Homo sapiens: one gene and its partner. The protein of the gene in region 1 purifies or fractionates together with the protein of each later gene. This does not show direct contact. Each region holds a gene or a part of one and is shown in the gene's direction. Other genes may lie near its edges.

Evidence for each region.
Region 2: the proteins of MKNK1 (region 1) and NUP214 purify together in Homo sapiens (affinity purification with mass spectrometry; one large-scale study listed by BioGRID and IntAct). This does not show direct contact.

The regions. Positions count from the first base shown.
Region 1 is NC_000001.11:46,566,269-46,569,768, reverse strand, and holds part of MKNK1 (MAP kinase-interacting serine/threonine-protein kinase 1), read left to right. Parts: exon of another isoform or gene 1-1,270; coding exon 1,271-1,326; intron 1,327-1,471; exon of another isoform or gene 1,472-1,563; intron 1,564-3,500. UniProt on the Homo sapiens protein: May play a role in the response to environmental stress and cytokines. Appears to regulate translation by phosphorylating EIF4E, thus increasing the affinity of this protein for the 7-methylguanosine-containing mRNA cap.
Region 2 is NC_000009.12:131,146,086-131,149,585, forward strand, and holds part of NUP214 (nuclear pore complex protein Nup214), read left to right. Parts: intron 1-43; coding exon 44-219; intron 220-1,401; coding exon of another isoform or gene 1,402-1,404; coding exon 1,405-1,499; intron 1,500-3,500. UniProt on the Homo sapiens protein: Part of the nuclear pore complex. Has a critical role in nucleocytoplasmic transport.

The DNA.
Region 1 (3,500 bases):
GAGCAGTGCTACTCAATTTGTGCAGCCTGGACTGAGTTGCTCTGGGTTCTCGTTCAATTAGGTGACTGATGAAGTTACTGAGCTTGCTGGAGCTCAGGTTTTTCTTCTTTAGTGAAGTGCCTCCCGTGGCCTGGGCCAGGCTTTTGCCTTCTAGTCGGGAATCGGAGGACTGCTGAAAAAGTTGATCACCGACGGAGTTTTAGTGAAGCAGATTTTGCTTTTCCCATCACCCCGAGAATCCGCTGCCGCTTTCCAATACTTCCAACTGTAGCTCTGACTCTTGCTCAGCCTTCCAGCCCTGTCTCTGTGCTGCATGTGCTGTGGAAGGAAAGACAAAAGGGAGGTTTCTGTGTCCTCCACCAAAACACCATGACCCAGAGTTAGTTCTTTGTCCCTTTCTTTGGTTAGAAGAGGGCTCTCCCCGAGGTGCCTTCTTGGCCAGGTCAGCAGGTTAACCCCTCATGGGCTAAGCTGCTATCTCCAGTCGCCTTCAGGAGGCCTGGCCAAAGTGCAGAGGTTTTCTCTTAAAAACAGCAACCCTCAGTGGGCCTAGCGAGGTGGCTCACACCTGTAATCCCCATGCTTAGGGAGGCCAAGGGAGGAGGATTGCTTAAGGCCAGGATTTCAAGAACAGCCTGGCTATAGCGAGACTCCATCTCTATTTTAAAAAACAAAAATAACAGCATCCTGGTGCCAAAGCGGTCTTTGCTCTGCTGCTGGCAGGGCTGCCTTAGACATGCAAAGCAGGTGAGAAGGGAATAGGTCACTTTGGGAGATTTGGTAACTAACACTTGCTCCTCTGAACATTCAGACAGTCGCACTGAAGGAATTTTTTTTTTTAAATCGGCCACACAAGAAGAAATGAGGTAGAGCAGTTAAGCCCCCTGAGATGCTCTTAAACAAGGCACTAATTATTTCTGCATTGCTGTTCCAAGCATTGCCGTTTGCAGAGCTCTCTGCTCTGCTCTGCATTAGGCCTTCTTCTTGGTGGTCACTGTGGTACTGAGGGGTAGGCTGGCTGGGATTCATTTAGCCCTTCTTATCCCTGCCAGACTTCTAAAGCCTCCTCTTCAAAAGAACCCGCAGAATCAACTGTGCTTTTGGTTTGTGTCGCTGGTTACTTCTGCCTCCTGCAGCTCGTTGATTTTTTAATGTACCATAATTGGGAATTAATCTGCGAACTACAGCATTTGGAAAAAATTAATTGTGTGTGGAATGTTTGATAATTATCTGCATATGTTAACCATTTTTTTGCTCTTTGTCATGTCAGGCATTGCTCATCGTGATCTGAAACCAGAAAATATATTGTGTGAATCTCCAGAAAAGGTACTTTGGGCCTGATTTGGAATGTTATAGTTTATACTTACCGAGGAAGCCACCCTTGCTTTCAGGATGGATTGTTAGCAGTTCCGTTGGCCTCAGACACCAACTTGAACTGATCGTCTTGGACATGTGAGAATGTTACACTTACTGTGTGATGTTTCTGCCCATCCTCGTCCTTTCTTCGCTCTTGATCATCAGTGTGATTGATGTAAGCCTGAGAGTTTGGAAAATATATGAGACCTGCACAAAATTAATATTTTCTAGTCCAATGCATCTATCTTTATATCAGTTGATGGAAGTCGTAAATACTTTTTTTTTTTTTTTGAGACGGGGTCTCACTTTGCCACCCAAGCTGGAATGCAGTGGCATGATCACAGCTCACTGCAGCCTCGACTTCCCAGGCTCAAGTGGTTCTCCCACCTCAGCCCCCCAAGTAGCTGAGACAACAGGCATGTGCCACCACACCTGGCTAATTTTTGTATTTTTAGTAGAGACAGGGGTTTCACCATGTTAGCCAGGCTGGTCTCGAACTCCTGAGCTCAAGCAGTCCACCTGCCTTGGCTTTCCAAAGTACTGGGATTGCAAACGTGAGCCACCATGCCCAGCCAAACAACTTAATCTTATGTGAAGCAGATCTCTTTAAGTAAACGGAAGTGTATGAATTTGACAAATTCTGTGTTTATTAGGAGAGATTTAGGCACTGGTGGTGTTGGGGCCCACGTTCACAGCTCTGCGTGTATATACATGTGTGTATTCAAGAGCATATATATTGTGGTCTGGATGAAGCCGCGGCTCATAAATAAGGGGTGGCCTTGAATGAATGAGTCAGTCTGCTACTCACAACTCTTTTATGGGGAATAATAATGGATTCGCTCAAATAAGATCTTGTGACTTCTGTCACTGATTCTGTCGTAGACCTTTATAATTTATCATTATTATGATGATTACTACTAATAATTACAGTGAACACTTCTTGAGTGCTTACATTGTGCCAGGCACTTATATTTATTTAGTGTTTATGAAATATCATGAGGTAGATACTATTATTACCTTCATTTTATGGACGAGGAAACTGAAACTCAAGTTAGGAAACATGTATAGCCAGTGAGCCATGATTGCACCACTGCACTCCAGCCTGGGCAGCAGAGATTCTGTCTCATAACAAGAACGTGAGGAAAGGCAAGGCGAAAGAGAGGAATAATTGGGACCAGGCAGTGGCTCACGCCTATAATCCCAACACTTCGGGAGGCTGAGGCAGGAGGATCCCTTGAGGCCAGGAGCTTAAGAACAGCCTGGGCAACAAAGCGAGACCCCATCTCCACAAAAAATTTAAAAATTAGCTGGTCACAGCGGTTGCATGCCTGTAGTCCCAGCTACTCAGGAGGCTGAGGTAGGAGAATTGCTTGAGCCTGGAGTTTGAGGCCAGCCTGGGTGATATAGTGAGACCCCTGTCTCTTAAGAAAAAGAGAGGTTAAGTTTCAAAGGACATTATCTATCAAGAAAGTGAAAAGACAATCTACAGAATGTGAGAAAATATTTGCAGATCATATATCTGGTCAAGGTTTAATATCCAAAATATATAAAGGATTCCTAAAACTCTACAACAAAAAGACAAACCAATTTAAAAATGGACACGGGACTTGAACAGACATTTCTCCAAATAAGGTACACAAATGTCCAACAAGTACATGAAAAGATGCTCAACATCCTTAGTCATTAGGGAAATGCAAGTCAAAACCACAATGAGATACCACCACATACTACTAGGTAGGCTGTAATTTAAAAAATGGAAAATAGTAAGTGTTGTTACGGTTATGGAGAAATCGTAACCCTCATACATTGCTGGTGAGATTATATAATGGTGCAGCTTCTGTGGAAAAGTTTGGCGGTTCCTCAAAGGCTAAACACAGAATTACCATATGACCCAGCAATTCCACTCCTAGGTATTACCCAAAACAATTGAAAACAGATACTTGTATAGCAGTATTCATTACAGCATTGTTCACAACAGCCAAAAAGGTAGAGACAACTCAAGTGGTCATCAGCAGCTGAACAGATAAACAAAATGTGGTACATACATTCAATGGAATACTAGTCAGCCATAAAATGGAATGAGGTTTTGATACATGCTGCAACATGAATGAACCTTGAAAACATTATGCTAAGTGAAATAAGCC
Region 2 (3,500 bases), on another chromosome or scaffold:
TTCTAGCAGGCTCTTCTGAGGCCTTCAGGCTGCCATTTTTCAGGTTTACTGCTGCAGCTACCTCTACTCCTGTTAGTAGCTCCCAGAGCGCACCCCCGATGTCGCCATTCTCTTCTGCCTCCAAGCCAGCTGCTTCTGGACCACTCAGCCACCCCACACCTCTCTCAGCACCACCTAGTTCCGTGCCATTGAAGTCCTCAGTCTTGCCCTCACCATCAGGTATGATTTTAAGCAGACAACTTTAGACCTCAGCCCTGCCTTCTCAGATTAACGGTTTTAAGTGTTAAGAGTCGTAGCTAACATAGTTGGACAAGGTTATTTTTTCTTGCTTCCTGTATCATACATTAATGATTAATGTGCTGTGATTTTCATACTCTGAATTGGGAGATTTGCTCTTGCTTAAATGCTGCCACTCTTCTCTCTGACACTTCTTATGGAGCTAAGTGTATTTAATGAGTCAAAAATGCCTTGCTCTTGGGCATTTATTTTCATATGGAGCCTGCCCTCCATGAAGAGCAGTTACATAACAGTTCTTTAAGAAGCACAGGCACAAGAGTTGTTTGGCGGGGTGCGGTGGCTCACGCCTATAAACCCAGCACTTTGGGAGGCCAAGGCAGGTGGATCACCGGAGGTTAGGAGTTCGAGACCAGCCTGGCCAACATGGCAAAACCCCATCTCTACTAAAAATACAAAAATTAGCCAGGTGTGGTGGTGGGTGCCTGTAATCCCAGCTACTCAGGAGGCTGAGGCGGGAGAATCACTTGAACCTAGGAGGCAGAGATTGCAGGGAGTCGAGATCACGCCACTGCTCTCCAGCCTGGCGACAGAGCGAGACTCTGTCTCAAAAAAAAAAAAAAGTACAGAGGAGAGAGTACCTGCAGTGATTATATTCATATTTTCACAGTCAGTCATACTGTAAACAGGAAGTTTTGTTTTGTTTTTTGAGACCCTCTCACTCTCTCACCCAAGCACATCACTGCAGCCTCTACCTCCTGGGCTCAAGCGATCTTCCCACCTTAGCCTCCTGAGTAGCTGGGACTACAGGCATGTACCACCACCGTCGGCTAATTTTTAAATTTTTTTGTAGAGACAAAGTCTTGCCATGTTGCTCAGGCTGGTCTCAAACTCCTGGGCTCAAGCAATCCTCCTGCCTCAGCCTCCCAAAAGGCTAGGATTACAGGTTTGAGCCACCATACCTGGCTCCTAAAATTTTAATATATTTTTTTCATTATCTTAGAACAGAGGCTAGCACAACTGGTGGTCATCACTCTTTAAAATAAATCATGAAAGTGGGCCAGGGGCAATGTGTAACTTAATTTCTTAGATTTGGAGAAAGGACATTTGTGATAGGAGAAATAAAGGTAATAAATGCCATCTATTTTAACTGACTTCTTTTTCAAGCAGGACGATCTGCTCAGGGCAGTTCAAGCCCAGTGCCCTCAATGGTACAGAAATCACCCAGGATAACCCCTCCAGCGGCAAAGCCAGGCTCTCCCCAGGTATGTTTAAATTCAGCTTGCAATGTTTGTGTTTATTAATTTACTGCCCCAAGCATACCTATGAATAAAATGAGTTTTCATGTTTTATAATTCAGACCTTGGACATAGTAATTGGGACTATGTGATAGTAAATACCAAAGTGCGAGGTTTGAATACTTGTATACTCGTAAAAGCCATTTAGCTATTTTAATTTTTTATTCATGTATAATACAAATAGAAAAAAGTACACATGATACATGTACAGCTCAGTGAATTGTCAACAACTGAACATACCTTGGTAACTAGCATCCAGATCAAGAAACAGAATTTTACGAGAACCTGGCTGGGCACAGTGGGTCATGCCTGTAATCCCAGCACTTTGGGAGGCCAAGGCGGGCGGATCACCTGAGGCCAGTAGTTCGAGACTAGCCTGGTCGACATGGTGAAACCCCGTCTCTACTAAAAACGCAAAAATTAGCCGGGCGTGGTGGCACGTACTTGTAGTCCCAGCTCCTGAGGAGGCTGAGGCATGAGAATCACTTGAACCCGGGAGGCGGAGGCCAGAACCCCAGAGTTCTTTTTCACCTGTCCCCTTCTAGTCACTACTCTTGCCAAAGAGTAGCTGATTTGATTTCCAACAGCATAGATGAGGTTAGCCTGCCTGTACCTCCTATCAAGTGGATTTGTACAGTATGTATTCTTGTATCTGGCTGCTTTGTTCAACATTATGTTTGTGAGATTTATCCATGTCGTTGTATGGAATTTATTGTGTGATTATATTACAACTATTTGTTCCACTCTGATGGGCGCTTGAGTAGTTTCCAGGTTTAAGCCATTGTATGTAGCACTGCTATGACCGTTCCAGTTGACATCTTCAATGAACACATATGCAAGTTTCTCTTGGGTGTATCCCTATGAGTGAGATTGCTGGGTCATAGAATCTGCATGTATTCCTCATTAGTAGATTCCCACCAAGAGTGTATGAGACTTCTGGCTGCTCCACATACTTGCCACTCTTGGTATTTTTCATCTTTTGTTGTATGGTTTTGTGGTTTTAATTTGTATTTCTCTAATGATTAGCAAAATTAAGCTTTTTAAAAGATGATTATTGGCCATTTGAATATTTTCTTTTATGTTGTGTCTGTTCATGTCTTTATTCTGTTTTTCTGTTGGATTGTCTGGCTTTTTCCTTCTGATTTTTAAGAGTGAGTTCCTTGAATACACACACACACGCACACACATACAGTGCAAATATGTTCTCACTGTGAATTGTCTATTCATTGTCTTTTTTGTTTCTTTGATGAATACACATTCTTCATTTTAATATAATTAAGTATATCAGTTTTTTCTTTTATGATTAATGCTTTTCATGTTTTAGAAATAATTTTCTATTTCAAGGTCAAAAAGATGTTTTTCTAAAAGCTTTATTATTTTATCTTTCATATTTAGATTTGTAGTCCATCATCTCAGTTTATTTTTATGGTATAATGTAAAGAGAATTGTATGTCAGTTTCCCACGTGATTACTTGAGTGCCCTGAGAATAAGCGTTATGTCTTTTCCTTTCTGTGTCCCTCTAACCAACCCTTGTACCCTAACACACACCTGTACTAGGTACATAGTAAGTGCCCAGGTCACAGTTCACGGTGTGGCATGATGCATGACATACAGTGTTTGTCAAATAAATGTTTGCTGTTAATGAATGCTGATGCAGTCTAAGACCTCTCTAGTGTTAATCGTTGTAAGTATCAAATAGTCTAAAGGGCATTTCAAATTATAGTATCTTTAAAGCAGAACTCTTGATTTCTGTCTCCCCTAGAGGCTAGTCCTTTTCCAATGGGTAAGTAGCACTAACAAACCAGATGTTTGCACAAGCCCCAAGCCCCGAAGCATCCTAGATCCCTCTCTTTAACAGTACCTGTCCCCAGTCCAGGCTGGCGGGAGGTCTTGTCAGCTCCACCCTCTGCTGTGTCACATGTCATAAGCCCACAGCTCTGTCCCCCTGCTAGCATCCTGTGTCAAGC